4 linked regions of the Homo sapiens genome follow. The protein of the gene in region 3 interacts with the protein of the main gene of each other region in a pairwise test. Each region holds a gene or a part of one and is shown on either strand. Other genes may lie near its edges. The genes, in order: USP5, TLR9, RNF216 and KHNYN.

Region 1 (7,259 bases), on a different chromosome or scaffold from region 3:
ACTGGAAGTCCACAGTATTTGATCCCCATTTACTTTCTGGATCTGTTAGCCCCAGGATAGAGGTGAAGGAAGTCCTCTGTGATTGATTAAAGAGCTCCAAAGCCCAAGAAGGAGCAGGTGGAAAGATAAATGGTGACTGGTGTTGCTGTTGAATGGCGACGATGAGCTGGTGTTCCTCAGCCCCCTGATGTCCTTGTTGGTTGTTATCAAAGTCATGGGAGGAAATGGGGAGAATCTTAGCTATGTCCCAGGTCCTAAAAGGCTAAATAACTTGCCAAGGGCCACACAGTGTTAGAGAACAGAACATTTCTTCTGGAACCCAGCAGTTTCTGACTCCAGGTTTTGGTTTCCTCACCTGACCAGGCTTCATAACATCCTCGTGTTTTCACCCTTACCTCTTGTCCCACAGGAGTCTGAGGGGGGCCTCTACATCTGTATGAACACGTTTCTGGGCTTTGGGAAACAGTATGTGGAGAGACATTTCAATAAGACCGGCCAGCGAGTCTACTTGCACCTCCGGCGGACCCGGCGCCCGGTAGGAGCAGGGCTGGGGCAAGGCCTGGGTACATTGTCTGTTCCATTCTGACCTCCTATTGGACTCAGTTTCTTTTTTTCACCTACTTTTGTGTCATTAAAGCTTGGCACAGATGTTTTTTAGCTTTATTCCGTTCTGAGATGAAGCACTACCTCCTTCCGTCCCTCCTCCCGACTTGTTCCTTCGCTCGTGCTCATTGCTGATCCAGCCCTTCCTGCTTCTTTACAGAAAGAGGAGGACCCTGCTACAGGCACTGGAGACCCACCCCGGAAGAAGCCCACGCGGCTGGCTATTGGTGAGCACCGCTGCAGTCCTATTCTTCTCCCTGAGCTGGTCTTTCTGGCTCTCAGCAGCACCAGGAAAGCCCCAAAGAGTGGGCCTGATTGATGGCCCTAGAACTCTGGATGGGGCAAGTGAGGTGCTGGCTCGGAGGAGGGACATTGACCTGTTGTCATTGCTCTACTCTCCCTCTTCTTCCCTATCCTTCCAGGTGTTGAAGGCGGATTTGACCTTAGCGAGGAGAAGTTTGAATTAGACGAGGATGTGAAGATTGTCATTTTGCCAGATTACCTGGAGATTGCCCGGGATGGACTGGGGGGACTGCCTGACATTGTCAGAGATCGGGTATGACTGCCCCCTATGCTACCCAAGATTCTAGAGCAAGATGGGCCAGGGTAGTGGTGTCTTAGGCAAGCACTGACAAAGCTGAAGGCCAAGGGGAAGAGGGGCATGTGGGGCAGGGGGTTGGGTATTGCCTCTGACCCTCTGCTTCCCCCAGGTGACCAGTGCAGTGGAGGCCCTACTGTCGGCCGACTCAGCCTCCCGCAAGCAGGAGGTGCAGGCATGGGATGGGGAAGTACGGCAGGTGTCTAAGCATGCCTTCAGCCTCAAGCAGTTGGACAACCCTGCTCGAATCCCTCCCTGGTGAGGCCTGGCCCCTCTGCCTCGGGCACCACCCCCAGAGCAAGGACAAGGAGCCCACTTTTCTGGGGGATCTGGTGGGAGAGAGGGTAGGGAGCAGGACAGGAAGGGAAGCTTGGAAATGAACACGACATGGGGATGGCCAGAGGAGAAGAGAGAGAGACCTTGGATTGGCGGGGGGCCTGCAGAGCCCTCTCTCTCTGCCACTCCCTCAAATCCCCGACCCACATTTCTGCTGATTCTCTTCTCTGTGGGTTAGTGGCTGGAAGTGCTCCAAGTGTGACATGAGAGAGAACCTGTGGCTCAACCTGACTGATGGCTCCATCCTCTGTGGGCGACGCTACTTCGATGGCAGTGGGGGCAACAACCACGCTGTGGAGCACTACCGAGAGACAGGCTACCCGTTAGCTGTCAAGCTGGGCACCATCACCCCTGATGGAGCTGGTACAGCCTCCCCTCCTCCAGCCACTCTCATGCTTAAATATATTTCATTTGTTAGTAATTTCGTGTGACATGTATAATACATGAATGCATTATCTTGATAAGAAAGGAAAGTAGTCAGGTGCGGTGGCTCATGTTTGCAATCCCAACACTTTGGGAGGCCAAGGCAGGAGAATTGCTTGAGCCTAGGAGTTCGAGACCAGCCTGGGCAACATAGTGAGACCTCATCTCTCCAAAAAAGAAAAAAAAAGAAAAATTGGCTGGGTGTGGTAGCTCCTGCCTGTAGTCTCACCTACTCAGGAGGCTGAGGCAGGAGGATTGTTTGAGCACCCGGGAGGTTGAGGCTGCAGTGAGCTATGATTGCACCACTGGACTCCAGCCTGGGCTACAGAGACCCTGTCTCAAAAAAGGAAAATACTGCAGATGAGACTAAATTTTTGATTACTCCCCACTCAAATCCTCATCCCTTTCCTACCAAGCCTGTCTTACCTTATCCTATACAGGTAGAATCAGAATCACAAGTAATTCCAACCCTCACCCGGTTTCATCTGTCTTCCCTGACCGTCAGCCCCAGAAGGGCCATGACCGCACTCATATTACTCATATTCAAGGGAACCAAGAGGGTGGACCTTACTGGCTCTCCTTCTGTCCCCTCAAGTCCCTTCTGTGCAAGGGATGGGATGGTGGCCTGGCTAGTCCTGAGCCACTTCCCCTGATTCTCTTCCTGCCTCCTGCTCTAGACGTGTACTCATATGATGAGGATGACATGGTCCTGGACCCCAGCCTGGCTGAGCACCTGTCCCACTTCGGCATCGACATGCTGAAGATGCAGAAGGTGAGACCCCCTTCAACTTCAGATTCTTCTACTTCCTGCCCCTGTGAGGGCCCTTCCTCTTTGCCTGAGGCTGAGGTAGGGTTTTGGAGAAATCTTCTAGTTAACCCCATCCCCAAGATACACAGGCTTCTTTTAAATATCTAAAATCATTTATTCAGTGAATAGTACTGAGTACCTACTATGTGCTAGAGGCTGTGTGAATAAGACAGATGTGGTTTTTGCTTACAAGAGTTCTACTCTAGAAGAAAAGGCAGACATTAGTCACATTCCCAGATAAATAAGTGAATAGTTGCAAACTGGTGGGCACTGTGAAAGAGAGGCGGAGGGTACTACAGTAATTGACAGCAGGGTGGCCTGGCCTAGTTTAGGGATCAGGGACATTTCCCTGAGGAAGCGATGCTTAACTGACAATGTGAAGGAGGTTAGGGGTAACTTAAGGATGGGAAAAACATTTCAGGTAGAAGGAAATTTTATTCCTCATTCAAGCAGAGGCCCTGATGACTAACGGGCCTCTGGGACAATTATGTGTGGCCTTCCAGAACTTGAACTGGACGATACTCAACATACCTCCCATGTTTGAGCCTGTAATTCCACAAATTCTAGGCCACAGTTGAGTATCATCCTAGACTCAGTGAGAGATCGAGGTAAAAACTACAGGGTTGAGTTTCTCACTCAGTCTGAAGTGCCCCTTCTCACACAGACAGACAAGACGATGACTGAGTTGGAGATAGACATGAACCAGCGGATTGGTGAATGGGAGCTGATCCAGGAGTCAGGTGTGCCACTCAAGCCCCTGTTTGGGCCTGGCTACACAGGCATCCGGAACCTGGGTAACAGCTGCTACCTCAACTCTGTGGTCCAGGTGCTCTTCAGCATCCCTGACTTCCAGAGGAAGTGAGTAGTGCCCTCTCCTTCCCCAGGCCCCCTCCTGGTCAGCACCCTCTGGGCATACTCCTCCTTCAGCTTCCCTCAGCACCTCTGTGTTTGATTCTAGTCTTAGAGTAGTTCCTATCGGCTGGGTGTGTTGGCCCACACCCGTAATCCCAGTACTTCGGGAGGCCAAGATGGGAGAATTGCTTGAGCCCAGGAGGTTGAGACCAGCCTGGGCAACATAGCGAGACCCTGTCTTCTCTTAAAAAAAAAAAAGAATAATTCCTGTCACACTCTGGCTGACATGCTGTGAGGGGAGCAAGTTAGGGAGCTGCACCACCAGCACCCCAACACACAAACCCCACTGATAGTGCAGAGTGCCAAGTCCCAGGGCTCTGTGGCCTTCTGACAGACTCAAGGGTTAGCAGGTGGTCTTTATTTTAGGGCAGTGACATCAGATGAGCACCTAACATGGACATGTAGCACTTGGGGAGGAGGGGGGCTTGGCACACTAAGAATAAAGGCAGGTTCTCAGCAGAAATGAGTTTACTTTCGAATTTGGGGAACAATTAGAATGTGAATGCTCAGAACATGTCAACAGGTTCTGTCCAATAGAACGTGAACTGCACTTATCCTAATCCCAGGCTACCTTCCCCCTCCCCGGCTCCTCTGCCGCCGAGCGTGCTTGCACATTGGACATAGCTGAGAAGGGGAGAACAGGCAGGTTGCTGGAGAGAAGCGACTCCAAGGTTCACCCACAGCAACTCCCCACTCTTGAGGGGAGCCCGTTCACAGAGTTAGTAAATGTTTGCTTCCTTCCCTTTTCCTCGGCGCTCAGGCCAGAGCCCCTCCAACTGTCCTTCCCTTGACTTTTAGGTATGTGGATAAGCTGGAGAAGATCTTCCAGAATGCCCCGACGGACCCTACCCAGGATTTCAGCACCCAGGTGTATGTAACCAGGTCCTATGTAGGAAAGCTGTTGACAGTCATGGCCGTATACCTTCCTCCTCCCTGACCGCCTGGGGGGCACAGCACTTTAACCCCTGGCCTTTTTTTGTTTTGTTTTGTTTTGTTTTTTGAGACGGAGTCTTGTTCTGTTGCCAGGCTGGAGTGCAGTGGCGCGATCTCGGCTCACTACAACCTCTGCCTCCTGGGTTCAAGTGATTCTCCTGCCTCAGTCTCCTGAGTAGCTAGGACTACAGGCACATGCCACCACGCCCAGCTAAATTTTTTTTGTATTTTTAGTAGAGACGGGGTTTCATCATGTTGGCCAGGATGGTCTCGATCTCCTGACCTCGTGGTCTGCCCACCTCGGCCTCCCAAAGTGCTGGGATTACAGGCGTGAGCCACCGTGCACGGCCACCACTGGCCTATTAGGAGCATTCGGGTGACTGTCTTCTGGACGTGTTGTCTGTCTTGAGCTGGGTTCCTGTAGAATCTAAGGTTTTTCACGTTGTTGAGAGTTAGCTAGGGAGAGCCACGAGCAGGGGGTTGAGCTGGGGACACACAGGGTCGTTAGTTGACTGAAGTGAAATGTTTTCTTGGATATTAATGCAGGGCCAAGCTGGGCCATGGCCTTCTCTCCGGGGAGTATTCCAAGCCAGTACCGGAGTCGGGCGATGGGGAGCGGGTGCCAGAACAGAAGGTGCGTCTAGGACCCTGTCCCTTTCAGGCCCTGGGATTGTGGGGAAGCTGAGGTCTGGGAGATGTCTAAAGAAGGCCCCTGGATGGCCACTGAGCCCCAGCTGAGTCCCTGCCCTGACTCTTCCCAGGAAGTTCAAGATGGCATTGCCCCTCGGATGTTCAAGGCCCTCATCGGCAAGGGCCACCCTGAATTCTCCACCAACCGGCAGCAGGATGCCCAGGAGTTCTTCCTTCACCTTATCAACATGGTGGAGGTAAGGGCTGGCAAGATGGCACACCCCCATCTTCCTGCAATTTACTCGCTCTCCTTCCTGCCCATTTCTCCCTCTATCAGCCCCAACCCAGTCCCATCCCTGAACCCCAACAGTCTGTGTCCCTGTGAACAGTGCTTGCACCTGAGGAGGACAGTGAAGGTGATGATCCCTACCCTTGATGGGCTTGAAGCCCAATTCAGATTATGCCCAAAGACAATGATAAGAGAATACTTGCTGCTTATAAAGAAAAATACAAGCGTGTTCTAACACAGTCCCTCAGTGCAGGGATGGGGCCAGAAATGGGGAGGGGTTGGTGAATTAGGGAAGGTTTCTGCTCTGCTCTTGTGTCCCTGAGTTCCGAGTGGTAGTCTGCCTTCTCTCCCTGACTCTCCCATGAACCTTTCAGGCCCCATTCTGTTCCCTGGCTGCCCAGACCTCCCTACCCTGCCTCTTTCCCATAGAGGAATTGCCGGAGCTCTGAAAATCCTAATGAAGTGTTCCGCTTCTTGGTGGAGGAAAAGATCAAGTGCCTGGCCACAGAGAAGGTGAAGTACACCCAGCGAGTTGACTACATCATGCAGCTGCCTGTGCCCATGGATGCAGCCCTTAACAAAGGTAGGCTGCTCCATCAGCAAGGCCGTGGCACGGTGGGAGGCTAAGGTCTAGGAGGAATGCTTGGGCACCTCATGGGAGCACAGCCCAGGGAATGCCCTGCTTCACCAGCCAAGGTTCCAGTCTGGGCCACCAGGAGTAGGTAGATTAACCTCGTCCAGTGGACACTCAGCTTGTTAGCAGAGCTGCATGGAAACAGGCGAGATATATTGGACATGTGTCAGGGGTGCTTTGGAAGGGTAGAGGAACTGAAATACGGACACAGAGCCAGTAGGGAGAGGCTAAGGAGGCAAAGAAGCAGCACCCTCCGAAGGATCCACCAACCCATTCTGTCACCAGAGGAGCTTCTGGAGTACGAGGAGAAGAAGCGGCAAGCCGAAGAGGAGAAGATGGCACTGCCAGAACTGGTTCGGGCCCAGGTGCCCTTCAGCTCTTGCCTGGAGGCCTACGGGGCCCCTGAGCAGGTCGATGACTTCTGGAGCACGGCCCTGCAGGCCAAGTCAGTAGCTGTCAAGTAAGTCCTCTGGTCGGGGCCTGAGGCTGTGGGTCTATGGCAGAGCTATCCCAGAGGATACTTCTGTCTCTTCCCTGTTCTTTCATCCCTTTGTGGTTGGAACCTCAGGGTTGAATCAGTTGGGCTGGTAATCTGGCCCTGATGGAACCAAGGGGCCCTGGTAGGGGGGACACGGGTACTGACTCTATCTGTCACCTTGTCCTGCCCCAACCACTCCCTCTTCTGTGGCACAGGGTCTCTTTGTAGTGTAGCCTCTCTTCATTGCCCCTCAGTCATGGCTGAGCACAGGCACTTAGGATCAGCTGTGGGCAGAATTTGGATTTCCAGCAAATAGCCACACTTTGAGCCTAGCCATTGGCACCTGGCATGGGTGTGAGACCTGAAAAAGGGCTTTGGTCTCGGGGAGTCAGCTACCCAGCCCTTTGCTGCTCCTGCCAGTGAAACAGCTCTTCCTCTCTGTGTGGGTTTTTTTTTTTTTTCTATGTGTGGGTCTTGCTATGTTTTTTTCCCTACGTGTGGGTCTTGCTATGTTGCCCAGGTTGGTCTCTTAACTCCTGGGCTCAAGCAGTCGTCCTGCCTTGGCCTCCCAAAGTGCTGGAATTACAGATATGAGCCACCATGCCTGGGCTTTTT
Region 2 (7,961 bases), on a different chromosome or scaffold from region 3:
GTTGTTGTGGGCCAGGCTGAGGTGGCGCAGGGTGCGCAGGTGAGCCACGAAGCTGAAGTTGTGGCCCACGCCCTGCATGCCAAAGGGCTGGCTGTTGTAGCTGAGGTCCAGGGCCTCCAGTCGCGGTAGCTCCGTGAATGAGTGCTCGTGGTAGAGGTCCAGCTTATTGTGGGACAGGTCTAGCACCTGCAGACCGGTCAGCGGCAGGAACTGGGAGCCATTGACTGCCTGCGAGATGCAGTTGTGGCTCAGGCGCAGGCACTGCAGGTGCGAGAGCTGGGCAAACATCTCCGGCTGCACGGTCACCAGGTTGTTCCGTGACAGATCCAAGGTGAAGTTGAGGGTGCTGCAGTTGGGCCTGAAGTCTTCAGAGCTGGGAGTGTCCACTGGGGCCGGAGCAAGGTCCCCAGGCTGCAGCCAGACCTTCTCCCCTCCATCTGCCTCCCCCATGGTGGCTGTCAGCTCCGAAGCTCCGCTGATGCGGTTGTCCGACAGGTCCACGTAGCGCAGGCCAGGGAAGGCCCTGAAGATGCCGAGCTGGGCCTGGTTGATGAAGTTCATCTGCAGACGCAGAGTCTGGAGCATGGGCAGGCGGGCCAGTGGCCGGAGCGTGGTCTCATCGAGTGAGCGGAAGAAGATGCCGTGCATGTCCAGCTCCTTCAGGGCGACCAGGCTCCCGAAGGAAGGGGCCAGAGACAGGTGGGCAAAGGACACCCTCTTTTGGTAATTGAAGGACAGGTTAAGCTTGCGCAGCTGTGTTAGGCCCTGGAAGGCCTTGGTTTTAGTGATGCATTTGTAGAGGAAGTTCTCACTCAGGTCCAGCACTCGGAGGTTTCCCAGCCCACGGAACCAACTGGCATTCAGCCAGGAGAGAGAACTGTCCTTCAACACCAGGCCTTCAAGACGGCTCAGGTGGCTGAAGGTATCGGGATGTAGCTGGGGGAAGTGACGAGGGCACTCCATGCAGGGGTTGGGAGCGTGGTCGCAGCGGCGGCAATTTCCGCCCACATCGAGCACACGCAGGGCGGTCAGATTGGCCAGGTCCTCAGGCGCCAGTTTGACGATGCGGTTGTAGGACAACAGCAGATACTCCAGGCTGGAAGGCAGGTTGCGGGGCACCACAGTGAGGTTGTTGTACTTGAGTGACAGGTGGGTGAGGTTGCCCAGGCCAAGGAGGGCACCCGGGGCCACCTCCAGTGCCTGCCTGCAGGGGTTCTTGTAATAACAGTTGCCGTCCATGAATAGGAAGCGCAGGGCATGCAGGCCGGCGAGGCTGGCAGAGTCTAGCATCAGGATGTTGGTATGGCTGAGGGACAGGGATATGAGGGATTTGGGCAGCGCAGGCACAGTCATGATGTTGTTGTAGCTCAGGTTTAGCTCTTCCAGGGTGGGCACAGCCAAGAAGGTGCTGGGCTCGATGGTCATGTGGCAGGGGAAGTGCATGGGGCTGAGGCCAACCGGCGGGCAGTTCCACTTGAGGTTGAGATGCCGCAGGCTGGGCAGGTGGGCAAAGTCAGAATCATGGAGGTGGTGGATGCGGTTGGAGGACAAGGAAAGGCTGGTGACATTGCCACGGGGTGCTGCCATGGAGAAGTGGGGCACAGACTTCAGGAACAGCCAGTTGCAGTTCACCAGGCCGTGGGGCTGGAGCTCACAGGGTAGGAAGGCAGGCAAGGTACCCAGGGCCAGGGTCATGGCCAGCATGATGGCCTGCACCAGGAGAGACAGCGGGTGCAGGGCGCTGCGGCAGAAACCCTGTGGGGGTGGGAGGGCTGTGTGAGTGGCCGGCCCCCAGCTCTACCTCCACCCACTCCACTTCATGGGCATCTTCTAGCATCTTCCAACCCCTCTCTCCAAGCCCTACCTGCAGAAGTTCTTCCTGGCTGCCAAGCCCCATTCCCATCCCCCATGGCTTGTGGGGAACCTGAACTCAGTCTCAGACCCAGTCTTGGACTCAGAATTAGGCTTCAGAACCAGGACTGAGACCTAGAATCCAGACTTATGATCTACAGCTTTCACTTAACCAATCCCTGGCTATACCAGGCCAGGCAAGGTGGCCCACGGCCCCCCCTGGTCTCTCCCCGACTTTCCCTTCCTGCTCCTGAGCAAGGTGGCAGCTGGCTCCCTCCCCTCCAGCTGCCCTGAAATCCGCTCTCTGCCCTCCACCAGCCACCCCACAACCCCTTCCTTTTCCTTCGGCCAAGATTCAGGCAGGTGTGAGAGTCTCCCACTATGGCCCAGGCCGGCTGCCTCCCAGGGACCCTGGCCAGAGGGCACTGCACAGCTCCATCACTCTCTGCCTGCCTCACCTAGCCCGAGAGCCTTTGCCTTATGGGTCAGAACAGATGGAGAGAGGGGTGGCCTGCAAAGTGCCAGACAGAGCCAGCCCCAAGCTACAGGCCCAGTGAGACCCAAACCCAGGCTCCAGCCCCAGCTCCATCAGTGCCTCAGTCTCCTCGTCCCCTCTGGGGGTTTGGGTCTCATTGCTCAGAAGAGGGCTTCAGTGGCTGGGCACGGTGGCTCACACCTGTAATCCCAGCAGTTTGGGAAGCCGAAGTGGGCAGATCACCTGAGGTCTGGAGTTCAAGACCAGCCTGACCAACATGGAGAAACCCTGGCTCTACTAAAAATACAAAATTAGCCAGGCATGGTGGCGCAAGCCATAATCCCAGCTACTTGGGAGGCTGAGGCAGGAGAATCACTTGAACCCGGGAGGTGGAGATTGCAGTGAGCTGAGATCAAGCCACTGCACTCCAGCCTGGGCAACAAGAGCGAAACTCCGTCTCAAAAAAAAAAAAAAAGAAAAAAGAAGAGGGCTTCGGCTCTGAAGTCTTCAGGATTCAGTGAGTGTCCCCAGGGCCATGTGGGTGACAACCCGTCACTGTTGCTTGCAGCTGCCAAGCCCACTTCTTTCCCCACCCCTTCCCAGGATATCCCCTTCCCCAGGGGACTGAGAGCTGTTGTCCTACCATGCTGGGGGGCAGGGGCTTCTCCAGAGGGTCTGGCGGGCAGACTGGACAGCAGCTACAGGGAAGGATGCTTCACACTCGAGGTCCCTTCCCACAGGGGCAGCAGCGGCTCAGAGAATAGAGGAAGTAAGATTTTTATACCAGCCTAGTAGCTCCCCCTCCACTCCACCCTGCCCCCAGTGAGGAGGACAGGGTCCCATGAGTCAAAGGCCATTTGCATAGTCAAATGGCAGACAGCTCCTTCACCCCTTCCTCTTTCCACTCCCCTCTCAGACAGCCTACATCCCATGAGGGCCTCACACCTGTCCTCTACCAAGCCCAGGGAGGAGCTAAGGCCCAGAGCTCAGGCAGAGAGCAGGGAGAGATGGGAATTCTGGATAGCACCAGTAGCGGGTACACCTTGCTGGGCACTCCCCATTCTAAGAGGACACTTCCACCCTCAGGTCTTGGCTCCTGCACCACAGCTGGTGCCCTCAGGACAGCGGCTGCCGACTTGTCCTTTTCTGCCCTTGTAGGCACCATCTCCAGAGTTCTGCAGGGCCTCATGCGTGGAGGGCCAGGGTGTAGCTTGAGCAGGAGGCTAGGCTGCACCTGCCTTCACCACAGCCTTGCAACATCTTCCGGAAACAAGACCTCCTCCTCCACATTCCCAGAGCCCCTGGGGCCCCATCAGAGCACACACCACGTCACTCCAGATGGGGCTCCTAGAGGCCAGGTGTGTGCTGGCCCAGCAGGGCCGCCAGCCAGTCCTCCCCATCAGTTCTTCCCACTCTCCTTCTGATCTAGGTGAGGAGACTCAGATTCCTCGGGCCCAAAGCCTTGGGTGACCCCGGGCCCCTCAGCAAGTTCTGCTGGGTCCACCATGCTGAAGGGTGTGCCCACAGCCCACCGTCCCCATGTCCACCAGCCCCCATCCTCTCTCCTAGACCCATGCAGGTGCCACCTCCCTTCTGGCTGTCCTGCCCTGCTCTCTGCCCTCCAGGGGCTGGTCACATTCAGCCCCTAGAGGGAACTGTTCAAACCTAAGTCACACTAGGTCCCTCCTCTGCTCAGACCCCTCCCTGGCTGACTCTGGAGTCAAAGCCACAGTCCACAGATGGCCAACAAGGCCCTATGGGACCTGCCACCCGCTGTTCCCCTGAGTGCTCTCCAGGCCCACTGGCCTGCTTGCAGTTGACTGTGTAGCCCCTGGGCATTCTCCTGCCTCAGGGCCTTGGGATGTGCTGTTCCCTCTGCCTGAAAACTCCCCCAAGTCTCATATGACCCCTCCTTTGCCTCCATTATGTCTCTGCTCCCATGTCACCCTCTCAACAGGGCCATCCAGCCTTCTTACAAACCTCCCACCCCAGATCTGGCACTCCTGAGCTCCTTTGCCTGGTCTATGTTTCTCTTTGTCCTAACATTTTTTAACTGCTAGCACACCGGATCATTGATCTTTCATGGTTTATTGTATATCGTCTTATTCCCCTGCTGGAATGTCAGCTTCTTAAGGGCAGTGATCTTTTATCTGCATCCCCAGGATCCAGTACAGTGCCCAGCACATAGTAAGTGCTTGATATCTGCTGAATTATGTACACCCAGCAGTCAGCTCTGGGCAGGCACAGAGAGGGTATTTCTGAGTGAAGGCTGAATGAATGAATTAATGAATTGTTGCTGCTGGGAGGAGGCAAGGCTGCACATCTGCCAGCCTGCTCCCCCCAGGCCCACTCTGGGTGGTATCATGGCAGGCAGGCTCCATAGTGCCAGGCATCTGGCTGGCTCAGCAGCAGGGGGCGATGGCATCGTCTTCCTGCCCACCTGGGAGCCAATGTTTCGGCTGGGCAAGGACAAGCCTCCTCTGGGTCTTAGCTAGTCTGGCTCTCCTCTCTACAATTCTAGGGGCTTGAGCAGGGGCTCAGAAAGGCGCCAGGGATAGAATGTTGCCCTGAGCCAGGAAGGAGAGCAGTGCCCACTCAGTAGCTGGGCTGCAGGCATCAACCCCATGCTTCCACTCCTGCCTGCCTGGGGTGGAAGGCACCTGCATTCATTCCCTCCATCCACCTCTCAGAGGGATACACCAAAGCTCGGGCTCCTGTGGAGCCCCAAGCCTGAGACTTTCCCAGAGTCCCTTGGACCAGGGACCCAGACCCCCATACCCAGCAGTGGCCCTGCCTTCTTTGGAGGCAGAAAACCAGAGAGGCCAGTAAGCTGACAGAGGGGTCTGCACACACAGGTACAGACCCACGCACATGGACACACTCAGCTTGGAGACACCGATATCGATGTCCACAGAAAAACTTGTCCTGGCCTCAGCCCAGGGAGGCTGGGAAGCCTTCGAGGAGGAGCCCTTATCCCATGTGGGAGGCTGCATAAAGTCCCTCTCAGAGATCCTTGTCCTAATTCCCCAAACCTGCAAACACGTGACCCCAACACCCCACAGTGTGGCAAAAACGACTTCGCAGATGTGATTAAGTTACCCATCTTGACAGGGGTAGGTGGTGGGGGCAGGGAGGGTGAATGCAATTACAATGTCCCTTATGAAATGGAGACAGAGGGAGATTCGACTACAAAAGGCCATGGGAGCCCAGAGGCTGAGGAAAGCAGAATCAGAGATGTCACCTCTGGCTTTGAAGGTGGAGGAAGGGGCCCCAAGCCAAGGAATACAGCCAGAAAAGGCCAGGAGATGGGTTCTTCTGAGGGGCCCAGACACAGCCAGCCCTGCCAACACCTCAACTTTGGCCCTGTGAGACCCATCTCAGTCTTCCAGCCTCCAGAACTGTAAGAGAATACATTTGAGTTTCTTCGAAGCCACTAAGTTGGTGGTAATTTGTTACGGCAGCCTCAGCAAATGACCATATGCAGATCCCTCATGTCACAGTGGAGGCGCGCCTGCCTCTCCAGCAGGGCTCCTGTTGACTGGGAGACCCGCGTGAGGCTGCACGCCCACTCACAGGCACAGCCTCTCCCACACACCTGGAGGTGGAGTGCTGGGGCTCCACCTCGCAGGCCGGCACTCCCCTCTCCCCTGTTGGGAAAGGACAGTTATATGCACAAGACTGCCCAATTCCCAGGGCCAGAGGCGGTCTCTCAGGGCCAAGCACAAGTCTTGATTTAAAAATATTTTATTCTTTAGAAAATACAGCATTCAACCATCCCAAACTGCAGTGACCCCTGCCCCAGCCCTGACTGACCCCACTTCTTGTGGCCAAAGGTTTCTGGGCTGTGCTGGGACCCTAGTCTCAGCTCCCCGGGAGGCCAGGTTCATGCCAGGCCCCTGACCCAGCCCCCTTAAGCCAGCCAGGCAGGGTCCCCGGACACCCTGGGCACACAGACGAGATGCAGGGACAGCAACAGGGAAGGGTCACAAAATGCCAGCCCGGTGGCCCTCGGACGCTGCAAGTGCGTTCAGCTGCCAGCCCTCCTGACCTCCCAGAAACACTTTCCTGGAGCCCAGGAAGGAGGATGGTGGCAGGGAGCGGAAGGTGGGCAGCCCCACAGTCCACACGTGGCCGGCCCTGCTCCAGCCTCCTAGCTGTCATCCCCATTTTCACCCGGGCCGCGGATGAGGCGCTTATGGCCCCGCTTGCCCCCTGGGCCCTTGGGCTTGGCGAAGGCCTGCTTGAAGGCGTGTTGCTTGGGGTGCACCTCGTCGTAGAGGAACTCTGCCGTCAGCTCTGCCCCATCGCCAATCTCAATCTGCATGGGGCAAGGCAGTGGTCACCCCAATGGGAGGGGCTCTGACACACACCACCCCTGGTAGCCCCCACTCCTGGGGCACCCCTTACTCTCACATCCTAGCCCTGGGGTCTCCTGAGGTCTCCCCTTGATTCCCCACCTGGAATGCCACTCCCAGGAAAGCAAGAGCTTAGGGCCTGCTGCCCTGCATGCCTTGGACTCTGCTCGCTGGGGTCACCTCCTCCCTGTCTCCAGGCCCAGGGAAAGGACATGACATGGTAGCCAGGACTTGGACTTTTCTGAGCCACCGATCAGCTGGGCAGCCTTGGGCCATGCGTGTTGCTCCTTGGGCCTCAGATGCCCTATGATCAACACGACAGCAACGATTCCTGCTCTGCCGTCATCTCAGGACCCCAGCGCCCCACATGGAGATTGGAGTGATAGGGCCTGGGGAGGTGAGGCCCTGGGGAGGGCGCCTACTTTCTTGGCGATCTCCAGATGGAAGTCCTGCTCCACGGAGTCGAGGAGGCGGCTCTTGCAGCTGGAGTAGAGCATTCGCTCCTTGATGCTGCACTTGTACCCCGGCATGGAGTAGATGAACACTGTTGGGGGGCAGGAGGTGAGCCTGGGAGGCCTGAGAAACCTGCTGACCTTCGCACCCAGAGCAGGCCTGCCCCACTGCAGACCAGCCCTGCTCCCACCCAGCCACAGGCTTGGGAGCCCTGCCATGGCCACTCACCTACAGACTCAAGGGGGTCGCCCTCATGGGTGTGCTTGTAGAGGAAGAAGTGGTAGCGGGCAGCATCTCGGGGCACCCGGGAGGGCAGCTGGGCCACATCCGTGGGCTCTGTGTGCACCAGCTCAATGGTTTCCCGCTCTAGGTCCAGCTTCTGCCCAGGGCCAAGGGAAGATGGGAGAGCACCAGGTCGGGGTGGGCCCAGGCCCCTCTCCCCAGGAAGCCCTCAAACAGGATTAGCTGGTGGGCAGGAGCCTGATGTGACCTCCCTCTCCCAAGACTCCCCTGCAATGGCCATCCCTCTATGGGGGTCCCTCTGAAGAGGCCAGTCCTGGGCCCAGCCCCAACTCTGCCCCTTTGAAGGTTGTGCTAGAGAAGGAACTCCCACCAAGGGTAGTCAACGGTAGTGACTCCTGGGACAGGATGGTGTGGAGGGTCACAACCTCAGGGAGATACTGCCACTGGGCCAGCCCATCCTCAGAGGCAAGGCCTCTGGCGGAAGCATCTTGGAAGGGAGGAGCCGTTTTGCTTGAAAGCGGCAGCCGGAACAGCCAGGGCAGAAGGACCCTGCCTAGGGAAACGGGGTGGTCAAGGAGACAACA
Region 3 (7,259 bases):
AGGCGCAGTAGCGGGCACCTAGTCCCAGCTACTCAGGAGGCTGAGGTGGGAAGATCTCTTGAGCTCGAGAGGTGGAGGTTGCAGTAGGCTGTGATCCCGCCACTGCATTCCAGCCTGGGCAATGGGAGTGAAACCCTGTCCCCCCACCAAAAAACATCTGCCCAAAGGAAAAATGGGGCAAACAATTTGAATTAACAACGGCTGAGTACCCCGAGGAAACGCAAAAGGCCAATAAATAAATGAAAAAGTGTCCAACATTATGAGACATCAGAGAAATGTAAACTAAAACCACAAGGGGCCGGGCGTGGTGGCTCACGCCTGTAATCCCAGCACTTTGGAAGGCCGAGGCGGGTGGATCACCTGAGCTCAGGAGTTCGAGACCAGCCTGACCAACATGGAGAAACCCTGTCTCTACTAAAAATACAAAATTAGCTGGGCATGGTGGCCCATGCCTGTAATCCCAGCTACTCAGGACGCTGAGGCAGGAGAATCGTTTGAACCCGGGAGGTGGAGGTTGCGGTGAGCCGAGATCAAGCCATTGCACTCCAGCCTGGGCAACAAGAGTGAAACTCCGTCCCAATAAAATAAAGTAAAATAAAATAAAACCACAAGGAAATTCTGGGAAGACAGTAGTAGTAACAGCAGAATAGTCTTTGAATCTCCTCAAATTCTTACATAGTAACAGAAAAAATTCCATGGACAACAGTTACAAAAAAACTAGACAAGAAAGAATCTCCACAAACACCAAATTACTATAAACACAAGATTTAAATGTGCTTCTTGCTGTGTCACCCAGGCTGGAGTGCAGTGGTGCGATCTCGGCTTACTGCAACTTCCATCTCCCAGGTTTAAGCGATTCAATCCTTTCCTTCCTCTCTGAGAAAATCTCAATTTTCTTTGCCTTCCTGGGAGAAACCACTGTGCCTCAGAGGCAGTAAGCCCCAGATCGGGGCTTCTCATTAAATGTCTACAAAGAGTTAATAGTCAAATAATATCAGCATTTTCTCAACTTATAGAATGTGAAGTTATAGATACTATCAAAATATACAGATATCAAAACCAGGTTAGCAAAGTTTTACAACAGAAATTTCTAGCATTGATAACTGAAAAAAGATATTCCTTTTTTTTTTTTTTTTTTTGAGACAGAGTTTCGCTCTTGTCATCCAGGCTAGAGTGCAATGGCACGATCTCGGCTCACTGCAACCCTCTGCATCCCGGGTTCAAGCAATTCTCCTGCCTCACCCTCCCGAGTAGCTGGGATTACAGGCATGCGCCACCATGTCTGGCTAATTTTTGTATTTTTTAGTAGACACAGGGTTTCACCATGTTGGCCAGGCTAGTCTCGAACTACTGACCTCTGGTGATCCACACGCCTCAGCCTCCCACAGTGGTGGGATTACAGGCATGAGCCACCATGCCTGGCCCCAGGTATTCCCACTTTTAAAACTGACATATATCAGCGTAAGTTTGGGTCTCTCATTTGAAATAATGATATTGATGTTATTAATAAGTAGCATGGTATTTAAAAGAACAGCTCTGGTATCAAATTTGAACTGCATCTAATCAAGTCCTTTTTTTTCCCCAAATAAGATTTTTTTTTTTTTTGAGACAGAGTCTCCCACTGTCACCTGGGCTGGAGTGCAGTGGTGCAATCTCAGCTCACTGCAACCTCCACCTCCTGGGTTCAAGCGATTCTTCTGCCTCAACCTCCAGAATAGCTGGGATTAAGGGTGCCCGCCACCAAACAAGCTAGTTTTTTGTATTTTTAGTAGAGACAATGTTTCACCATGTTGGCCAGGCTGGTTTCAAACTCCTGACCTCGTGATTTCCCCGCCTTGGTCTCCCAAAGTGCTGAGATTACAGGAGTGAGCCACCACACCCAGCCAGATTTTTAAAAAGTATTTTGAACACTATTTTCAAGCCAAATTTTGAGACGGAATCTTGCTTTGTCACCCAGGCTGGAGTGCAGTGGCACGATCTCAGCTCACTGCAACCTCCGTCTCCCAGGTTCAAGCGATTCTCCTGCCTCAGCCTCCCTGAGTAGCTGGGACGACACATGCGTGCCACCATGCTGGTTAATTTTTGTATTTTTAGTAGAGAAGTGGTTTTGTCATGTTGGCCAGGCTGATCTTGAACTCCTGACTTCAGTGATCTGCCTGCCTCAGCCTCCCAAAGTCCTGGGATAACAGGCGAGTCACCGTGCCTGGCCCCAAGCCAAATTTCTTATTTTTTCTTTGACCACAACTGGCTTCCTTCAATTTTACACTGAAAATCAAAGGGAGATGTGAGTCATTTTTACAGCTAATTTAGTTGAAATGTCAGGCTTGTAGTTAAGCAGACTGCTAGTAACGGTTCAAAAAATTCCTCATGAGTGGCACACCAGTGGCCCCAACCTGTGAGAAGAAAAGAATTCTGATGATGGAATTTCTACTCTTAACTAAATGTAAGTCTCTGTATCAGGTCATTTAACTCTCTGACACTCAAGTCTTTTAATCTGGGCTTCGGATAATACTGCCTATGTTTAAATCTTGGTTTCCCATTTAGTCAATCGGTGGCTCCAGATAAATTGTTCAATCTCCTAGGCCAATTTCCTCATTTGTAAAATGAGAATACAGTTGTTTTAAAATTAGTTGCGGGTAGGTAGAGTGGCATGTGCCCAAGTCCCAGCTTTACTGTGGTTGCTGAAGCAAGAGAATCCTTTGAGCCCAGGAGTTCAATGCTGCAAGTAAGCTATGATAGCACCATTGCACTCCAGCATAGGCGGCAGAGGGAGAACCTACCTCCAAAAAAATTCATTAATTTTAAAAAATAAAAACTTTTTAAAAACTAAATCAGTTGAATTACATGAAGTTTTAGCACAGTGCCTGATATATACTAAGTGTGACATTGTGCTATTTTTATTAACTGTTACCTGCGAAACAGAAAAATCAAAATAGCTATTCTTACATTACAAGGCTATGTTGAAAAATGAGAAGCCACTTTGTATATGGTAAATACCATCAAAATAGCTGCATTGTAATCACAAGTACACAGGAAATGCAGTGCTTATTAATAAAATACAGTTCAAGGGGGGAAAAAATCTTTATTTTCCCATTCCAAGTTACTTTTTTTTTTTTTATTGAGACGAAGTTTTGCTCTTGTTGCCCAGGCTGGAGTGCAATGGTGCAATCTCAGTTCACTGCAACATCCCCTCCAGAGTTCAAGTGATTCTCCTGTCTCAGCCTCCCAAGTTACAGGCATGTTGCCACCATGCCCAGCTAATTTTATATTTTTAGTAGAGATGAGGTTTCGCCATCTTAGGTTGGTCTTGAAATGCCGACCTCAGGTGATCCACCCCCCCGACACTCACCAAAGTGGTGAGATTACAGTCGTAAGTCACTGTGCCTGGCCTCTTTTCTTACTTATAGTTGTATTTCCAATGCCTAGCACAGTTGTTGAACGAGTGGCTCCAAAAACTTCTTCCTCTGTCAAAGACTGGAGCTGTTATTCACCATGGCCATAGAACCAGAGTCAGGAAACATGGCCTAGGCAACAACAATTAGGATTTTCTTCAGTTATCAAGTATTGCCCATTACAGAAAATATGGGAAACAAAGGAAGTCAGGAAGAAAAGAGAATCGCTCACGGTTCTCTCACCCAATTTTCTGGTTTTCAAAATCTCACCTTCACTTCCTCGTGACCAGAATGCTTGAGGCTGTCTTCTACAAATCATTTTTTTCTCCTTGTTCTATTCATGCTGCTTCTCCATTTTTCCTTATGTATATGCTCCTAAACTACTACTGTATGATCCTAGGGCTCTGTAGTGCCCCTGGCTCTCCAGAATACTTCCTGTAAATATGCCTGCCACTTCTGCAACAGATTTGGGGGTCACTAAAGACTTTCAAATTTAATGAGTTAATCCCTTTGACTTCCCAGCAAAAAGTGGGCAAAGCAGGCCAGGTGCAGTGGCTCACACCTGTAATCCCAAAACTTTGAGAGGCCGAGGTGAGTGGATTATTTGAGGTCAGGAGTTCAAGACCAGCCTGGCCAACACGGTAAAACCTGTCTCTACTAAAAATACAAAAACTAGCCAGGCGTGGTTGCAGGCACCTGTAGTCCCAGCTACTCGGGAGGCTGAGGCAGGAGAAATGCTTGAACCCGGGATGCAAAGCTTGCAGTGAGCCTAGAATGCGCCACTGCACTCCTGCCTGGGTGACAGAGCGAGATTCCATCTCAAAAAAAAAAAGAAAAAGTGGGCAAAGCAGAGCTAGGCACAGGCTGGAAGAAGATGACATGCCCGTGTCACACCAGGCCTCCACAATACCTCTTCCCAGCATGTTTTTAAAAATGTCTATAAACGATTGTTTTTCATTCAAATACCAGTTGCTCATCCTAACCATTCTTTGGATATCCATCCTTTTGTAAGTCTGTACTAATACAATTAATATTAAATCAATACAGAAAAAGTTTACTGTTAGCTCTCCATATCCATATGTGAAAGCTGTGGATATGGAGAGCTGACTGTACTGCTACAGCATTTTATGTAACAAGAATTGGTTATGCATCATCGGGAATACATCAAAACAAACTCTCAAATGGATTTTGTCTCAAAGAACTCAGAGTCCCATCAATCAGAGAATAAAGTCACTAGTGTAATAAAGAGACTATAGCCGGGCACGGTGGCTCAAGCCTGTAATCCCAGCACTTTGGGAGGCCAAGGCGGGCGGATCACGAGGTCAGGAGACGGAGACCATCCTGGCTAACACGGTGAAACCCCGTCTCTACTTAAAAAAAAAAAAAAGCACAAAAAAATTAGCCAGGCGTGGTGGCGGGCGCCTGTAGTCCTAGCTACTCAGGAGGCTGAGGCAGGAGAATGGCGAGAACCCGGGAGGCGGAGCTTGCAGTGAGCTAAGATCGGGCCACTGCACTCTAGCCTGGGCGACAGAGCAAGACTCCGTCTCAAAAAAAAAAAAAAAAAAAAGACTATAGGGGAAGGGCAGGTAGTCAGTGAAGGTTTCACAGGAATAGCCATATCAAGCTAAAGTGAGAGACGTGTCAGATCTGGGTTTATCCTTTAAAAGCACAGCAGCCCCTGACTCTACTAAAAAAATACAAAAATTAGCTGGGTGTGGTGGCTCATGCCTGTAATCCCTGTTACTCTGGAGGCTGAGGCACAAGAATGGCTTGAACCTGGGAGGAGGAGGTTGCAGTGAGCTGATATTGTGCCACTGCACTCCAGCCTGTGCGACAGAGGGAGACTCTGTCCAAAAAAAAAAAAAAAAAAGAGAGAGAGAAAAAGAGAGAGAGAGAGAAAAAAAGAAAGAAAGAAAGAAAAAGAAAGTGAAAGAAAGGAAGAGAAAGAGCGAGTGAGCACAACAGCTTTCACTTAGGGCTCCTGGGCCCAGAGTCATCAGGTAAAAAGTCTGAATACCCTGCTGAGAGATCACACAGAAAGACCTGACACTACACGTGGAGGGAAAGAGCCAGTGGAGCCCGGCCTTCCAGCAGTCTTTGACAAGGCATGTGAACGAAGAAGACATTGTGGAAGCGGATGCTCCAGCACTGGCCACCTCTGCTGACAACATGTCGACCAGAGAAAAATGGCCCAGGTGAGCACTTCTCAATTCTCCTGATTCATAAAACTGTCAACAAACAAAATTATTCTATGAAGCAGTAAGTATTAGGGTGGTTTGTTATACATCAACAGATAACTGAAACAGAGCTCAGATTTTATTTTCTAGCCAATGGGAAGCAATGCAATGACAGCTGTGCTTTAGAAAAATCAACCTGGCTGCAATGTGTAAGATGGCATGTAGGAGACAACCGGTGCCAGGAAACAAGAGCCAACAGTACCTAGGGGGAGGAGAAGAATACAAGACACTGACTGCAGAGTTAGAGTCGATGGGATCTGTGTATGTCACTGGCCATCAGGGCAAGAAGAAAGGAATCAAAGTTGACCTAGACGCTGAGATCAGGTGACCACAGGATGGTGATGCTATTAAGGAAGAACAAAGCAGATGATGAGTTCAGAGAAAGAAAACGAAAATTGTGTTAACTTTAATATGTGGACAAAATATGGTAAAATAACATCCATCATTATGGATATAAATATGCAAACAATTAGTCTAGAGTTTAACAGCTCTAAGAATCCTATTATCTGTGTATTTTTACAATAGGAAAGGTTTTAAATCAAAAATTAAACTCAAAATCTTCAGTGGGCGGGCTAAACAATTTAACATAAAACATCAAGATTTTCTTCAACTGTCCAATGAAAATTAGTTTAGAAACTAGGACAGATAAGTAAGTACATCCTCATGTGTGGAGGGTAAAATCAACGTTTTCAACGATCTTTTTAGAACTGAATCTTCTGTGACCAAAGGACATGCTTCTGCTTCTAGCCCAAGTACTGCCTTGCAGGCTCCATCCCTTGACATGTTTTCATACGGCATTTGAGTTATTTCTTTTAAACCACAAATCTCACCATGGTGAAACCGAAATCCTTACCATGGCCTACAAAACGCTACCATCACCTGACCTTGCTGACATAGCGGGCCTTACCTCATACCTTTTCCCCCCGCATTCACCATTCAGTAGTAACAATGGTTCAGTTCCATGACTTGCTCCTTCCTTCCACTGCAGGCTCTTCCCCAGCTAAACTACTCTTCTTCACTGCCTCTTGGACCAAATTAACTCTATTCATTGTTCGGTTCTTTGCTTTCTCCTCAGAGAAAAATTGTTCCTGATTATCCCCTAGATGTTCCTCCCTGGTTCAATCACACAACGTACCTCATTTCTTCAAAGTACTTCCAACAATACTTTAATATACTTATTTAGGAAACTATGTGTAATTTTGGTCTCCTCTGCTAAAACTTAAGTTCCAAGAAGGCAGAACCAAAGTGTCACTTGATCCCAAAGCCCCAGGACATAGCATATCGGATGGCACAGTAGATGATCTTCAATAGTAGATGTACTTTCAGAATAAATAGCACTCACTAATTATAGAAGGATAATTAGTGGCATGAACTCTGGGTCCAAACTGAGTTCAAGTTCCACGCTGACCCTTACAAGTTTTGGGACTAGATATTTTTCAGCACCTCAGTTTCTTTTTTTAAAATTATTATTATTTTTGAGACGGAGTCTCGCTCTGTCACCCAGGCTGGAGTGCAGTGGCACAATCTCGGATCACTGCAACCTCCGCCTCCCGAGTTCATGTGATTCTCCTGCCTCAGCCTCCCCAGTAGCTGGGATTACAGGCGCACGCCATCACACCTGGCTAATTTT
Region 4 (7,640 bases), on a different chromosome or scaffold from region 3:
TGATCATAAGGCTGCCATCCATCCCTGGACTCTTATTTACAGATTTTTCTATGTGAGACAAAAATGATTTCCTATTTTGTTTAAGCTATTCTTATTTTGGGTTTTACTGTTACAGCCAAACCTACTCTTAATCATTTTGCCTAATTAATATCTCATTATAATTAGTGGGGTAATACAGAGGATCCATTTTCTAGGAGATGAACGATCAAGCCTGAGCAGTGAACAGTTGTCTTTTGGACATCTGACTAATCCATTGTCTTATAACACGCCATTGGACTGTTTTTCTTCTTAGTTGCAAAATATACTCAAATAGTTCCACCAGTATCTTTCATTCTTGGCACAGTGCCAGATCTTCTTGGAATTATTCACAGTTCTCTGTACTCACCCCTCCCTACTTACATAGATAAAGAAAAACAAATGTACCTTGCAAATAGACAAAATGCCTACTATATTTATGTTCTTGTACTTATCACGACTCACTAAAAATAGCCTATATTCACTCTTCTTCACTCAGCATATTAACTACTTTTTGTCACACTTTATAGTGACTTCTTCCTTTTTGAATATCATTGCAGGTACATGGATTTAAAAAATTCACCTTGTTCCAATTAACTGTATTATTTTCCTTTTGATAATCAAATTGTCAAAGCATGTCAAGTGGGAGCTTCTTTAAATTGATTCCTTTGCCTTTTCAGCTTTACTTTATACATTTAAAAAGTATCTTTGCTTTCTGTCATCAACAACATGTTCTGGGCCTGGAGTTACTTAAGGTGTGCAGCTATTCTCCAAGGAACCTGAGGGTTTTTGGTATTTTTTTTTAATGGTGACTAATATCTGAAGCAAAGATCCAGTTTCTAAGAATGGATATCAGATTGTTCCTGATGTTGTTTTTAGGATTAGTGACAGTTCAAAAAGTTATTTCTTTTCAAAACCACAAATTCACCTTGGTATTTCCTATTTAACTCAAACATTATTCAACTTTTAAAATGTAATTTTAGTATACAGTTTGATATTTATTTTCCTCTGCAACATACCTACTTGTACCTGTAACACCCGATCCAAACTCCAGAGGCATCTTCTCCTTAGTAATTCTATAGTGTCTCACTGACCACCATTCTCTAGTTGTTTTATTGATAGATTCATCCAGGCTGGGCCAATGGGACAGCGGGATAAGAAAGAGAGAGGGAGGGTTTAGCATACTGGCAGGAGAGGGTCTGAAGGAATGAATCATGGAATCCCAGGTAATAGGAAGCCTAAGGAGGAGAATAAGACAGCACAGATCAGGAGAAAGAGAGATAGTGGGGATATGCTGGAACAGGTACAGTGAAGATAACTCAGTGAGAGAGCTGGGAGGAAGGAGGCAGCAGTCAGAGTGTGGAGGGACTAAAGTTCAAACTTCAAAGGTGGAGCAGTTTCAGGAGGTGGCCAAGCAAGAGGATGCATGGTTATCGATGTTTTCCATGGTCCACTTCCAGCTCTGTATACCTGCTCTCAGCTCTGCTCTCAGCCAGAGCAAACACACTCACCCTAATCTCAGGTGGGGAGGTAAGGGCCAGAGTCCATCTGGGATCCAGCATAGAAGGACAGCCAGGATTGCTACCTGCTGGCTGCTCTGCTATACATGCAGAATGTGTACCATGTTCAGTCTAGACAATACACCCTCCTTCCTTCCTCACCAGCCACAGACTCCAGGCCCTTCCCACCCTTCTGCCTGTGGCTGAGCCTCCCACCCTAGCCCATACGGTGCTGGTTCAGCTTCTGACGGTGCTGGCTGAGATCCGTGATGCTGGCTTTCCTCACAGGAAGAAGCCTGCAGGGTACGCTGAGGCTTGTCCATCTGGGCTCCTGTGGGGGCCTGTCAGGCTCACCTGCGCCACCTGTCCCTGATCAGCATTGAGCAGGAAGCTGGGGTGGGGGAACCGGAGGAGCAGAGGCCGCAAAGTAGTGCAGATCTTCCTTCTTGCCAAACCTTGCCCTGATCCTAGGGCTGCAGGCAGGAACAGATGCAGCAGGTGGCTGGGAGGGTAACTGGGGGTGGGTGGGTGGAAAGGCCTGGTCTGGAGATGCCACAGCTCTACTCTTCTCTTAAACTTGGGTGTTTGGCACAGGGTCCCATGCAAAGAGGTGGGATAGGAGCCAGAGGGAGTCTCTCTCCTGCCTCTGCTGTTTCTGGGGCAAGAGAGGGCAGAAGAAAGTTGTCAGGGGCTGGATTCTTGTGCTTGAAAGACTTGGGTCCTCAGAGAGGGAAGATGAGGAAGCCAGAGAAACTTGAGTATTTCCAACCACCCAGTAGATTCCCCCGACGCAGGCGCAGAGACACTCGGTCCCCAGGGTCCAAGGGCAGTAGCACAGAGCTGGTGGCTGCCTCCCGGGTCACGTCAGGATCATTGGCAAAGGCTGAGATGACAGGCCACGTGTTCAGCATCAGGCTCACCTGGGGAGGGGAGCCCAGTTAGCCCCCATTCCCCAGCCCTTAGCTCAGGACCCCCCACTTTCCCAGGAGCTTCCTCTTGGGAAGCTGGGTTTTAATGGGCTCTCCCGGGAGGGCTGAGGGGCGGCCAGCATTGGACTCTGCACATCCTCCACACTCAATGCAAGGCAGGCCCATTCCTCCCCTGGTCCTGGCCTCCAGGACACAGGTCAATGGAGAGTCCACCCGGAGGTCAGCTGGGCTCCCCTTCTTCCCCCTCCCCACCCTCCTGAGCCGGGGATGGGGGCCAGTGCTGAGGTCACCTGGACAGTTTGGCGGTTGTACACCTTCACCACATGGAACCGGAAGCTGTAGACACCCCGGACAGGGGCTACGAAGGAGCCAGAGGCCCGGTCAAAGCCACCGCCCTCGTTCACCAGGACCTGGGGGAAGCAGAGCCTGCTGAGTGGGGCTCAGGAAATGCCCATGGCTCAGGGGTACCATGGGGACTAGGGGCAGGGGCAGTGAGTAATGAATAGAAGGAGTGGCAAGTAGGAGTGAATAGGAGTGAACAGATTCAAAAGAAATGGTGAGAAGGGGCAAGGAGAGGGCTGCGTATGGGTGGAGGGAGGGGAAACCGTCGGTGGGGTGGTGGGGCAATAGGCCAGATTAGTGAAAGATGTAGGAAGCTGTTTTCTTAAAGCCTCAGAGACAGCAAAGTGGGCTTGGACAGTTGCTTCCAGGTCCTTGCAGGGTCTTTCCAGGTCCCCTGGACAGGGGTAGGGGGATTACCTGGTCGAAGTAGATGGCCCCACTGGTGCCATTGCCGGTTTCCCCTGCTGGCTCATGGTGGTGGCTTCGGACCGCAGCAAATGCCACTCGCCCAGGGGGTGCCTCTCCCAGGGCTGCTCCCCCGGGCCCCCCTGCAGCAGCTCGGCCAGGCTCACAGACCACCAGGCACTCCCCCTCCAGCAGGACGGGCTCTGACCCCTCCTGGGCCCACCCGGCCCCCAGGGCCAGAAGCACCAGAACCAAGGGCAGCCCGGGACTGTGTAGGGGACCTGGTAGCCAGTGTGGCTTGGCTCCCAACATGGCTGAGGGGCTCTGCAACCCACAAGTGCCCCGGTCTTCTGCCCCTCTTCTGTTTCCGCTCCTCTCCCTGGATTCTCACCGCCGGCACCCTGATCGTCTGCCCTCTCTAGGCTCGCTGAACCCCCTCTCCATACCTGTGTCCCAGCTCTGTCCTGCCTCCCACTCTTACTCCTGCTGTCACTGCAGTTCCCTCCTCCTTGGCAGAGCATGCAGTGACAGCAGTTGGGCTTTGGGAGAGAAAGGAGGGATGAAGCCGCCTGCCCACTGGACGGGAGGGCTGCAGCCAGAGCTTCAGGGCAGCCCTGCTGGATGGGACAGCACTGAGGGCTGGACCTGGGGGGATGGAGAACATGGTATGTGTGTGTGACGGGTGTGACAGAATGTGTGAGTGTGTGCATATGCCAGAGGCAGCCCCTCAACCCCTTCCTCCTACTCTTCCTCTCTTCAAAATCCCCCACAAATCAACAGCCCTTCTTCGTGGCATCTTTCCGTTTGTTGGAAGAAAGGGGTACTCCACCACGGGTACCCTCCGCCTCCCGCCTCCCGCCTACCCCCTCCGCCACGATTGCTTTGGTGGAAAGTGCTTGGGCCTAGAGCACCAGTGGGCCAGTCACGCTGCCTCTTTGGTCGGCCACATCTTTATTCGCGGGAAACAACTTTCAACGCATGGTTCCCCTTTCCGAGAAGTAACTGCGCAGAATGCGCGAGGACCCTGAGGGCCGGGAGACAGACGGGAGGGCTGGTGAGAAGCGCAAGGGGCGAGCCCTGGAGCCGCCGAGGGGACTAGGCCGAGCGGGCCCGTCGGGGCCTCTGGGCGCGGCGGCGGGGTTGGGAGGAGGGCGCGCAGCCGGGAGGAGCTGGGCTGACTCCGCCCCAGGCCAGGAAGTGACTCAAGAAACAGTTTGCGTGCGATGTGGACAAGAGAGGTCCCCGCTGGGTGAGGAACCCGGGAAGGCCCGCCCAGATTCGGGCCCCCTGCCCTTGTCCCCTGGGCTGGGGGCGCGGGCAAAGCGGGGGCCTGGCGGGCGCTGAGAGGACCTGAAGCCGGCGCGGGCGGCGGAGGCGGTAGGCGCGCCCCTCCACCGCGCCCGGGAGCGGGGAGCGGGGGCCGCGGTGCGGAGTAGGCCCGGCCCGGGGTGGCTGCCCCAGTCCGCGGTGGGCGGGCCCGGCCCGGCCCGGCCCCTGGGCCCTGGGCGGTGCTCCTGGCCCGACGGAGAGGGGCAGCGGACGGCTGGGGGAGGGGTGGGAGTGGCTTGAACCTTGGAAATGGCAGACCAGGGCCCCCAGAGGACAGCCTAGTTCAATCCCCTGCTGAGGATTCGTCCTTAAGAAGCTTCAGAGTGCCCCAGGAGACTCCTTCTGGCCTCCAGGCCGAGCTGGAGCCCCCCCACCCTTCTTGCTCCGGACTGTGGTCATCCTTTTCCAAAGCCCAGACGCCCACTCTCGATAGACAGCCTTGTTTACCGGGACTTCCTCTCCGGAGAGGCCTGCGTGACATACACCCTCCCTACCTCCAGTGGACTCAGATGCTTGTCACCTCCTGGGGCTGTTTACCAGAGCCTTAACTAGGTGCGACCTGTTGATAGCTGGTGTAGTCCCAGGAACCAGGATTTGGATGGAGGGTACAATGAGGCTCTGAGCTGCCTTCTCCCCTTCCAGGGCTGGGGGCAGCAGCCATGCCTACCTGGGGGGCCCGCCCCGCGTCCCCAGATCGCTTTGCGGTGTCTGCGGAGGCTGAGAACAAGGTTCGGGAACAGCAGCCCCATGTGGAGCGCATCTTCAGCGTGGGGGTGAGCGTCCTTCCGAAGGACTGTCCGGACAACCCCCACATCTGGCTGCAGCTGGAGGGCCCCAAGGAAAACGCCAGCAGAGCCAAGGTGAACGCCTTCTCTCCCCCATCCCTCCAGGCACCAAGGACGCTTTCCCCCAGGGCGGAGGAGAGCAGGGCCGAGGAGAGCAGGGAAGAGGAGGGGCCTGGGGAGGATCTCCACTTCTTGGTTGTCTCACTGGCAACCTCAGTGCCCCTGAGTTTTGAGGGACTTTCCAACTCTATATTTGTTTTCAGTTTCAGCTTAATTTCTTCTGTGATGGCCCAGGCTGGCAAAAATCATTCTGTGCTCTTTGGGAGAATAGAGATATCTGGCTGAACAAGTTGGCCCCACCAAGGAATGCACTGTGGGGTGGGAGGCTGGGCCACATTGCTTCCTTTGGGATTAGGCTGGGGTTCCAGGATGGCTCAATCATGTACCAGCTTTGTGATGGGAGTCTCAGTTTCCTTATCTCTAAAATGGGAATAACATCATGTGGATACTCCAGACATCCTGGAGCTCAGGAGCGAGCAAGGAGCCAGGAGGGGTGATCTGGGCCAGTTAGTTTACTTTTCCTGACCTTCCCTTCCTCCCAACCAGGAGTACCTGAAGGGCCTCTGCAGCCCAGAACTGCAGGATGAAATCCACTACCCGCCCAAACTGCACTGCATCTTTCTGGGAGCCCAGGGCTTCTTCCTTGACTGCCTGGCCTGGAGCACGTCAGCCCATCTGGTGCCCAGGGCGCCAGGCTCACTGATGATCAGTGGCCTGACTGAAGCCTTTGTCATGGCTCAGAGCCGGGTAGAAGAGCTGGCAGAGCGGCTGAGCTGGGACTTCACGCCAGGACCATCTTCCGGAGCCTCTCAGTGTACTGGAGTGCTGAGAGACTTCTCTGCCCTGCTGCAGTCCCCGGGGGATGCCCATAGAGAGGCTCTGTTGCAGTTGCCCCTGGCTGTCCAGGAGGAGCTGCTGAGTCTGGTGCAGGAGGCGTCTAGTGGGCAGGGGCCAGGAGCACTGGCTTCTTGGGAGGGGCGGAGCTCAGCCTTGCTGGGTGCTCAGTGCCAAGGAGTGAGAGCTCCCCCTAGTGACGGCAGGGAGTCCCTGGACACTGGATCTATGGGACCCGGAGATTGCAGGGGAGCAAGGGGAGACACTTACGCTGTGGAGAAGGAGGGAGGGAAACAGGGTGGTCCCAGGGAGATGGATTGGGGGTGGAAGGAGTTGCCTGGGGAAGAGGCGTGGGAGAGAGAAGTGGCCCTCAGGCCACAGTCAGTGGGTGGAGGGGCAAGGGAGTCAGCACCCCTGAAAGGGAAGGCCCTGGGGAAGGAGGAGATAGCTCTGGGAGGAGGAGGGTTCTGTGTCCACCGTGAGCCTCCCGGTGCCCATGGCTCCTGTCACAGGGCAGCTCAGTCCCGAGGAGCCTCCCTCCTCCAGCGGCTCCACAATGGGAATGCCTCTCCTCCGAGGGTGCCCAGCCCTCCACCTGCACCGGAACCCCCATGGCACTGTGGAGACCGGGGTGACTGCGGAGACCGGGGAGACGTGGGGGACAGGGGAGACAAGCAGCAGGGCATGGCACGGGGTCGGGGGCCTCAATGGAAACGAGGCGCCCGAGGGGGCAACTTGGTGACTGGCACACAGCGTTTCAAGGAGGCCCTGCAGGATCCTTTCACCCTGTGCCTTGCCAATGTGCCTGGCCAGCCAGACCTCCGCCATATTGTCATTGACGGCAGCAACGTGGCCATGGTGTGAGTACCTGGTGGGGCTAAGGGCCTAGGAGAGGGAGGATATGTCCTGAGGGGCTGGCATTGTAGCCAGGGTGCCAAGCCCCTCCTCTGGCCGACCCCCTCCCACTACAGGCATGGCCTCCAGCACTACTTCTCCAGCCGGGGCATTGCCATTGCTGTGCAGTACTTCTGGGACCGTGGTCACCGTGACATAACTGTCTTTGTGCCTCAGTGGCGCTTCAGTAAGGATGCCAAAGTCAGAGGTGAGTTGGGCCTGGTCTTCAGTGTCCCAGGATAGGCTCTGTTTCCACTTTGAGGAGAACCCTATTATGTTCTTTTTCAATAGAGAGTCACTTCCTGCAAAAGCTGTATTCCCTCAGCCTGCTCTCCCTCACACCCTCACGAGTCATGGATGGCAAGAGGATCTCCTCCTATGATGACAGGTACTTGCTCCTCTCCTGGCCCCAGGCTTGATATTGAAGGAGCCCTATGGAAGACTGAGGGAGAGAGAAAAGCTCCTGGTGGTTTACGCTGTTTCTAAGCCTTGGTGGTGGGTAAGGGGCCAGTTATTCCTCTGTGTGCCTTATGATTGGGTAGGTAAAC

The links.
Region 1: the proteins of RNF216 (region 3) and USP5 interact in binary tests that used the Homo sapiens proteins (3 or more experiments, as listed by UniProt).
Region 2: the proteins of RNF216 (region 3) and TLR9 interact in a two-hybrid assay, tested with the Homo sapiens proteins (one study listed by BioGRID).
Region 4: the proteins of RNF216 (region 3) and KHNYN interact in binary tests that used the Homo sapiens proteins (3 or more experiments, as listed by UniProt).

The regions. Positions count from the first base shown.
Region 1 is NC_000012.12:6,854,992-6,862,250, forward strand, and holds part of USP5 (ubiquitin carboxyl-terminal hydrolase 5), read left to right. Parts: intron 1-363; exon of another isoform or gene 364-409; coding exon 410-535; intron 536-637; exon of another isoform or gene 638-763; coding exon 764-830; intron 831-1,025; coding exon 1,026-1,159; intron 1,160-1,313; coding exon 1,314-1,459; intron 1,460-1,715; coding exon 1,716-1,900; intron 1,901-2,637; coding exon 2,638-2,732; intron 2,733-3,432; coding exon 3,433-3,626; intron 3,627-4,478; coding exon 4,479-4,550; intron 4,551-5,159; coding exon 5,160-5,247; intron 5,248-5,374; coding exon 5,375-5,500; intron 5,501-5,961; coding exon 5,962-6,115; intron 6,116-6,451; coding exon 6,452-6,626; intron 6,627-7,259. UniProt on the Homo sapiens protein: Deubiquitinating enzyme that participates in a wide range of cellular processes by specifically cleaving isopeptide bonds between ubiquitin and substrate proteins or ubiquitin itself.
Region 2 is NC_000003.12:52,222,558-52,230,518, forward strand, and holds the start of TLR9 (toll-like receptor 9 precursor), read right to left. Parts: upstream 3,089-7,961; 5' UTR 2,973-3,088; coding exon 2,970-2,972; intron 1,756-2,969; coding exon 1-1,755. Other genes in the region: TWF2 (twinfilin-2), read right to left, coding at 6,477-6,644, 7,104-7,225, 7,363-7,513.
Region 3 is NC_000007.14:5,771,656-5,778,914, forward strand, and holds part of RNF216 (E3 ubiquitin-protein ligase RNF216), read right to left. Parts: intron 7,009-7,259; exon of another isoform or gene 5,832-7,008; intron 1-5,831.
Region 4 is NC_000014.9:24,425,553-24,433,192, forward strand, and holds the start of KHNYN (protein KHNYN), read left to right. Parts: upstream 1-4,401; 5' UTR 4,402-4,567; exon of another isoform or gene 4,568-5,071; intron 5,072-5,161; coding exon of another isoform or gene 5,162-5,178; coding exon 5,179-5,379; intron 5,380-5,910; coding exon 5,911-7,058; intron 7,059-7,169; coding exon 7,170-7,300; intron 7,301-7,383; coding exon 7,384-7,480; intron 7,481-7,640. Other genes in the region: CBLN3 (cerebellin-3 precursor), read right to left, coding at 2,237-2,434, 2,734-2,853, 3,203-3,502.